Regions from separate parts of the Homo sapiens genome. Here region 2 is reported to be linked to region 1. The links are microRNA targets in miRTarBase. Many come from high-throughput screens and were not tested one by one. Region 1 holds a microRNA gene; the other region holds the end of a gene's coding sequence.

Evidence for each region. Region 1 holds the annotated microRNA hsa-miR-4701-5p (UUGGCCACCACACCUACCCCUU, at 1,441-1,462, opposite strand). A microRNA usually pairs through its seed, bases 2 to 8, with sites in the 3' UTR of a target mRNA and lowers its output. Matches are read on the target gene's strand: a 7mer-m8 pairs with bases 2 to 8, a 7mer-A1 pairs with bases 2 to 7 and ends in A, and an 8mer does both.
Region 2: the mRNA of KLB is a reported target of hsa-miR-4701-5p. Seed matches in the 3' UTR shown: 7mer-A1 at 1,146-1,152 and 7mer-A1 at 1,746-1,752.

Annotation. Positions count from the first base shown.
Region 1 is chr12:48,770,574-48,774,640 of GRCh38, forward strand. It overlaps MIR4701 (microRNA 4701), which reads right to left and starts at 1,464; the gene lies at 1,402-1,464. It overlaps ADCY6 (adenylate cyclase 6), which reads right to left. Exons shown (of 22, transcript NM_015270.5): 14 at 3,829-3,945; 15 at 3,367-3,525; 16 at 2,896-3,074; 17 at 1,935-1,970; 18 at 1,722-1,851; 19 at 1,137-1,400; 20 at 193-397. It also overlaps a transcript of SPMIP11 not described here.
Region 2 is chr4:39,447,988-39,452,043 of GRCh38, forward strand. It overlaps KLB (klotho beta), which reads left to right. Exons shown (of 5, transcript NM_175737.4): 5 at 314-3,546. The coding sequence ends at 699. Among named protein-coding and RNA genes, the nearest start is that of RPL9, 8.9 kb to the right of the region's middle.

The sequences.
Region 1 (4,067 bases):
TATGCTCAAAAATTTATAGGACAGTGCCTAATGATCTCTGTTCTTAATATCAGACTTGATATAGGAGGTCAGAGGGAAGAAAACCCCACAGGAGCCCTGATGGGAAATCTGTGATCCCATCCCCAGCCTATAATCCCAGCTTCACCTGGAAAAAGTCCTGGGAAAACCCGCCAAGCAACAAAGCCCTCTTACCAATCTTCATCTGGAAATTGTTGAAGGAGTGCTCATTGATGTGCTTCATCTGCTCCATGAGCCGCATGGCGTAGTCAGCCAGGGCAGTGATGTGGGAGCGGCCCACCTGATCGTAGGTGCTGGCGTTCAGCCCTGAGGCAGCCATGTAGGTGCTACCAATCGTCTTGATCTTTTCCAGCTGCCGGAACCGCTCCTCGCTGATAATCTGAACAACACAAGGAGACCTGGCTGTCAAGGCAAAGACCCCAGACCCAGCCCTGCCCCAACACTCATTTCTTGCCACGCCTTGGCTGCCTTCCCCACTTCCCTGTCTCAAGAGCCCCCTTCCAGCTGCTGCTATCAGTGTAAGACTGAGGAGCTGGGAAAACAGGCAGCCTAGGACTCCAGGCAGGACTTGGGCATACAGCTTCAGAAGGTCCCTCCAGTAGCTCACTCACAGAACACAGACCCACAAGTGCAATATTAAGCAATTTCTCCAATCCTTACCTTTTGGGATACTGAGTCCCAGAGTGAGCAAGTGACTTCCCTCCAGAACAGTGAACAGCCCATTCCTGATCTGGATGTTCAGGACACTACCTCACATTTTGCTTCAATTTTCTCTATTCAGAGGACCATCTTGCTTGGTTGGTCTCATGAGGTTCTGTCCACAGACTATTGCCTTCTTCTTCAGTGACATCCACCTGGTACCTATCCTATCCCCCTACAGATCAAGTCCTCCCCTGCTCCCCAACAGTGATGACCCTGCCCCACTAGGGCTGACCCCCTTGCTGCCTCTGACACCTTCATGGGTTCTTGCCTCTGCCTCCACTGTGCATACCCTTACCCCTGATGACTCTGGGTCCCATCAAATCTCTCTCTCTCTTCCCAGTTCCACTCACCCATTCCAATCCCTGGTCTCCAAGTACCCCCCACTCTCTGCCACCACCAGCCAACTGGAAAAGTACCTCATCAAAGTCAGCGATGATCTCGTTGAGCAGCCGCAGGCACTCGACACCCTCATTGTTTGCCTCCAGCTCCACATAGAACTCAGAGAAGTTGGCAATGGAGGCAAACATAACAGCCACACACTCACACGACTGATAGTAGAGTTCATCATTGCGGCGCTCCCGGGCCAGGAAGTGGGCCGCCACGTCCTTGGGCAGAATGTTATGCAGCAGCCTCCGGTTGTATGCCTGTAGCTCCTCCATCTCCTCCTTCTCCCCTGTTGCCTGTGGACACCACACCCATCACCCATTGCCCGACATTCACAAGGGGTAGGTGTGGTGGCCAAGGCTTGGAAGTGCGGATAAGAGGGAATCACATAGAGAAAGAAAGGCCCAGACAGATGAGGCCTAAAGAACAGGCAAAGGGGTAAAGGGGGCAGGTAGAGGATGGGGCAGGGAGTAAGGGATGGGCACAGAGAAGGAATGGAACCAGGGTGGGCCTAGGTGTGGCCTGAGCCTTAGCCAGCTAGCACAAGATACATTTCTGGCCTGGCCCAGGCTCCGCCCCTAGGTTCCTCCTCTTCCCCCAAAGGCCCACACAGTCACCTGTAGTTTCCAGAGGAAGTCTAGGCGGGCAGTCGACTCCACCTGCTGAGCATGCAGATACAGCGCCAGCGCAAACACCAGCAGAATCACAGGGGTCATATATTTGAGGGCCACCCTCCCTGCAGCTGGACTAAGGATAAGCAGAGACATGCTTGGTGTCTGAAGGAGGCATCTAATGGCTCTACCCTTTGCTGCCTCGGAGCCCTCACTTACCAGTCCAGCCCATCAAAGGTCTCATTGGAAGAAGCCCTGGTAAGAAGATAGAAGAGACAAAGTCATCAGTGCTTCCTGGATTGCTGGGTGGGCACATGGAAGGGGAGACAAGAGACTGCATTTACTGAGCACATACTGTAAGTCAGGCATTGGGCCAGGGCTTTTACTTACATTAATTAACTCATTAAGAGTAGAGGTTAAGAAAACCTCTGCTCTTAGAGACTCCTCTACTTACCAGCTATGTGACCTGAGACAAGTCGCTTAACTCTCTAAGCCTCCTTCCTCATCAGTACAACAGGGATCAGATCTAAATAATGTATGTAAAAGGCTTAGCACAGTGCCTGCCATATAGTCAGCCTTCCATAAATGTTAGTTACTATAATCTTTACAACTACCCTGTGATTTAGGTGACATTGCCATTTTACAGATGAAGAAATTGAGGCTCAGAGAAGCTAACTCACCTGTCTAAAGTCACACAGCTAATGAGCAGCAGAGCAGGGATTCAAACCCAGCAGAGACCAGAGGCTTTTTCTACTACAACAAGCTATGGCCACATATCAAAGGAATGGGGTTTTGCAGAGGAAAAGCCAGTGTGGTGTCCCAGGCAAAGCCCCCAAGCAGGAATCAGAAGCTTTGGTTCCTAACCAGAGCCCTGCCACCAAGCAGCTGTATGTCCTATAGGTGGTTAAGATGGTGGATGTGAAAGCACCATGCAAATGTAAGAGGGAATTTTTTTTTTTAATGTCTAGCCTAAAGACACAAGGATTTCCCAGGACTAGGGTTTCCTTGGGGGTAACTATTTGGGGTCACATGCTGGGAGCTCCTCCATCTCCTCCCTTTCCCCCACAGGGGTGTTGTGGCATTCCAAGGCACAAGGGGCATGGGCACCAGAGAGGCTCACAGTGACCTAGAAAGGTGAGGGAAGCTCCTGGGGTATTAAAGGACCTGAGAATAAACTCACAAGCCATGGACGCCAAGCAGTAGGTCATAGTTGTCAAAGATGGTGGCTGGGGGACCCAGCAGAAGCAGCACCAAATAGATGAGCCCCAAGACAAAGATCATGGCCAACTTCCCGATGCTGCTGATGTGCAGGAAGACAGAGCTGGCCAAGAGACTCAGCAGCATGTTCCCGATGAAGTACTGCGGGGGTGGCAGAGGCAGCGTTGGGTGAAGGCAGAGGCCACAGCACCCTTGGGCAGGGAGAGCCCTGCACTCTCCTGCCTGACCTAACCTTCCCACCACACCCCTCAAACCCCCATATCCTCCACCTTCCATGCCCAGCCCCTACAACACACCAGGGCCCCTGGTTGCTCCTAGTGTGGGAGACTCTGGTGAGTTCCTGGGTCCCCAGCGCCCATCACCAGGCCTGGCACAGAAGGGCCAATGTCTGTGCCAGGACAGCCCCCCCACCGCCTGAGCACTGCTCGAACACCTCAGGAAAGCTGCAGGTGGGCATGGTGCCCTCACACAGGGGAGCATCCAGGCCCAGAGAGTAATTGAGCTGCTGCAGGTGGCAGGCAGTGATGTCAGCAGGTGTTAAATTCAGCATCCGGGCTGCACAGCTCCGTATGGGGGTGTGGTTACAGGTGAACTGCAAAAGTGGAGGGGTATATCAGGGTAACCAAGGAGGGAAAGGGTTGCAAGGTACCTGGTGAAGCCATGTACCCTAACCTGGGCTATGCCCAGGTACCTTATACCCCATGGGCCTTAGTACTCACTCAGGGATGACAAGAGGTTGGGAGAACAAGGAAGGAGAACCGGAGTTAACCTTCCCCTATTCTGGGAGGGGGCTCCCTGAGGGCAGAAAATATGTCCTTTTCTCCGCTGTACTCCCAGTGTCCAGGACAGTGCTTGGCACAGAGCAGAGGTGGGAGAATTCCCACTGGACCCTTACCATGTTGGCAATGGCAGAAGTAAACACAAGCAGGACGGAAAAGATGCCAACTGCGGTGCTATGTGCCCGTGAGCGGACAATGCTGCGGGACAGACGTTGCAGGGCCTTAGGGAACAGCTAGAGGCATCAAGAGACCAAGAGTTGAAGGTTGTATCAGCCAAGGAGGAATGGCAACCAGGGATGGGGCCCAGTGGAAGAGGCATGGCCTTCTCCCTCTCCCCATGTGACCTCCTCCCTGT
Region 2 (4,056 bases), not on the chromosome of region 1:
TCTGCTTGTGACCCTTTAAACAAAAGTGACAACCTTCATTGCTCTGCTCCTTAAATTTGCTTTTTCCTCCAAGAGTTTTTGGATTATTTATGGATCAAGTTTCACTACAAATTTTTCAGACTTAAATTATACATATTTTCACCTTCTCCTTTACATAGATCATAAAAGAATAAATGTCAAAAAAAACCCTCTAATAAAAATCACTACCTTTATTATGGGCATAATTTTAGCTTGTTTCAATGAAAACTAAATTCTTCCTCAAAGATACTTCATAGTCCATTTGTGATTAATGTTAATTTCTTATCTTTTTCAGCATACCTGATTGATAAAGTCAGAATCAAAGGCTATTATGCATTCAAACTGGCTGAAGAGAAATCTAAACCCAGATTTGGATTCTTCACATCTGATTTTAAAGCTAAATCCTCAATACAATTTTACAACAAAGTGATCAGCAGCAGGGGCTTCCCTTTTGAGAACAGTAGTTCTAGATGCAGTCAGACCCAAGAAAATACAGAGTGCACTGTCTGCTTATTCCTTGTGCAGAAGAAACCACTGATATTCCTGGGTTGTTGCTTCTTCTCCACCCTGGTTCTACTCTTATCAATTGCCATTTTTCAAAGGCAGAAGAGAAGAAAGTTTTGGAAAGCAAAAAACTTACAACACATACCATTAAAGAAAGGCAAGAGAGTTGTTAGCTAAACTGATCTGTCTGCATGATAGACAGTTTAAAAATTCATCCCAGTTCCATATGCTGGTAACTTACAGGAGATATACCTGTATTATAGAAAGACAATCTGAGATACAGCTGTAACCAAGGTGATGACAATTGTCTCTGCTGTGTGGTTCAAAGAACATTCCCTTAGGTGTTGACATCAGTGAACTCAGTTCTTGGATGTAAACATAAAGGCTTCATCCTGACAGTAAGCTATGAGGATTACATGCTACATTGCTTCTTAAAGTTTCATCAACTGTATTCCATCATTCTGCTTTAGCTTTCATCTCTACCAATAGCTACTTGTGGTACAATAAATTATTTTTAAGAAGTAAAACTCTGGGGCTGGACGCTGTGGCTCACACCTGTAATCTCAGCACTTTGGGAGGCCGAGGCGGGGAGATCACCTGAGGTGAGGAGTTCGAGACCAGCCTGGCCAACATGGTGAAACCATGTCTCTACTAAAAATACAAAAAATTAGCCAGGCGTGGTGACAGTGGCACCTGTAATCCCAGCTACTTGGGAGGCTGAGGCAGAAGTTTGAACCCAGGAAACAGGTTACAGTAGGCCAAAATTGCGCCACTGCACTCCAGCCTAGGCGACAACAGCAAGACTGTGTCCAAAAAAAAAAAAAAAAGCAAAAGCAAAACTTTGTTTTGTTAGACTCTACAGCAGAGATTTAACACCCTTCTTTAAACTGGGTAGTCAGTGATAGATAATATATATTCTGTCACTTCTAATAAGGTGCCTTCTCCTTTAGGTCAGGGTGGTTCTAAAATGGAAAGAAAACACAATAGGGTAAGTAGTGCTTGTCTAAGCCAGTTACAACACAGACTCTTAAAGAGGATCAAGCCCTTCATTTTTCTAACAACAAAAAATCACCTATAGAATATCTAATTTGTGATCTTTTACTAGATCTGATTTTTTAAAATAATGTAATTTCCGGCCAGGCACGGTGGCACCGCCTGTAATCCCAGCACTTTGGGAGGCCAAGGCAGGTGGATCACCTGAGGTTAGGAGTTCGAGACTAGCCTGGCCAACATGGCAAAACCCCATCTCTACTAAAAATACAAAAGTTAGCCGGGCATGGTGGTGGGCACCTGTAATCCCAGCTACTCAGGAGGCCGAGGCAGGAGAATCGCTTGAACCCGAGAGGCAGAGGTTGCAATGAGCCAAGATCGTGCCATTGCACTCCAGCCTGGGGGACAGGGCAAGACTGTCTCTCAAAATAAAAAAAAATAATAAAAATAAAAATAAAAGTAATTTCCAAAACCTCATCTCATGGAAAGATCACAGGATGAAGGAAAGCTAGACTCAACTCTGTGAATAGAAGTTGCTATACTGTAAGTAAAGCAACAATTCAGAATACTGAATGAGTTTAAATTGTTTTATATAGCACCCTTTTGGGCTAGGGTTAATTACTAGATCTGACTTGGATAATTTGACACTTTGGGAAATGAACTCTGTTCTTGAGACTTGTTCAGTGTATTTTAAACATCTGAGGAAGAAAACTTAAATATGCACCTATTTATACCTATTCTTTCTTTAGGTCAACATTTAACACCCACTGCATACATTAATTTGTCCTTGTCTGCTCACTCCAGCAATTTAGACCTTAACAGTCACAAGAGACGTTCTTCTGTTACAAAGCCTTAGTAAATTAAGGCAGTTTTGATTATATTCTAGGTCCACCTATGTCTGAAGCTAAATTCAGTATCTAACTGCTAATGAACAAGTTTCCAAAATACTGTAAAAATACAATTAGTCAATTTGAGTAAATGCAAATATGATGAGAAATCAATTTGCTATTTGGCCTGGCAAATGGGAACAGTAAAATTCTGCTTTACTCTTCTCTAGTCTCCTTGCCCCAGCTGCACCCACTACCCCAAAGTTGGCAGTTTTGAGGTATGATTTTCAAGGAATTTTTTTAGTATTAACATCTCCCTCTGAGAACTATGTACCTAAGGTCACGCATACAACTAGTCAATTCTGTTTTTATTACTCTAACTATGTAGAAACAGTAAGTCACTTAAAACAATCACTTGGCTGGGTTTTTTCCCCTTTGTGCCACATTGATTCACCCTGACCCAAGAACTCCAGGGAAAATTCTTTAATGTCAACTGGGCAACTCATTAACCTCTCTTTAACATCAAGGGCTTGGGAAAAAAAAAAAAAAGGTTAGCCACAGGAATAACAAAAACCTGGAATTTATCTTTCAGGTTTTGCTTTCTCTTTCTCACTTTGTTTAAAGTATCTCGTACTCACAGTTCACAAATTAACCTTCACTGTCTCTTTCACATTAAGAGCTTATGCTTAAAGCATGCCCCCCTTTTCTAACTTGCTGGTTTACCATAAACTCCCCTAAGTAATAAAATTCCTAACCCAGTACTGAGAGTCCTCCTTCTCTGCCACTTGGGCATTATTTTACTAGTTTTTAAGCCATCATCGCACAAGAATCCAAAAACCCTTAAATTTTTTAACCACTGGCAAATATGTACAGCAAATTAGGTTAAGCATTTAATCTGGCTCATGCTCTATCATACTAAATATTCAGGTTTATCATAAACTCCTTAAAAACCATCAAAGGTCAACCAGAAACTGATAACTCTTGAAAGGAGCAAACAGGTAAGATCTTTGGAGTTTAAGCTTTTCTGAGATGTGTTGTGAAAAATCTAACGTGTTTATCGTATATTCAATGTAACAACCTGGAGAATCACAACTATATTTAAAGAGCCTCTGGAAAATGAGGCCAGTACAGTGTGACTACATGTTTAATTTTCAATGTAATTTATTCCAAATAAACTGGTTCATGCTGACCACTTGTATTCAACTAACAACCTGGTCAATTTTAAGAACTGTTGAATGTGAATGGGTTTGGCATTGTAAATGGGCTCTGCCCCAAGACTGCCTCCCCTGAATCCCTTTCTGCCTAGTTGTGCACCAACTTGGTATGTTACTTCTGGGTATATTTTCTCAAAAAATGTGGCTCAGGTGTGGTGGCTCACACCTGTAACCCCAGCACTTCGGGAGGCCAAGGTGGGCGGATTGCTTGATTCCAGGAGTTTGAGACCAGCTTGGGCAACGTGGCAAAACCCTCTCTACAAAAAACTAGCCAGGCATGGTGGCACGTATTTGTGGTCCCAGCTACACAGAAGGCTGAGGTGGGAGGACTGCTTGAGCCTGGGAGACAGAGGTTGCAGTGAACCAAGATCACGCCACTGCACTCCAACCTGGGTGACAGAGACCCCGTCTCAAAAATATGTGGACACCTACATCTAAAAATTGCAAAAATAGTGCACAAGTGCTTATCCATAGTAGACACAGAAGACAATAATTAAGTTTTC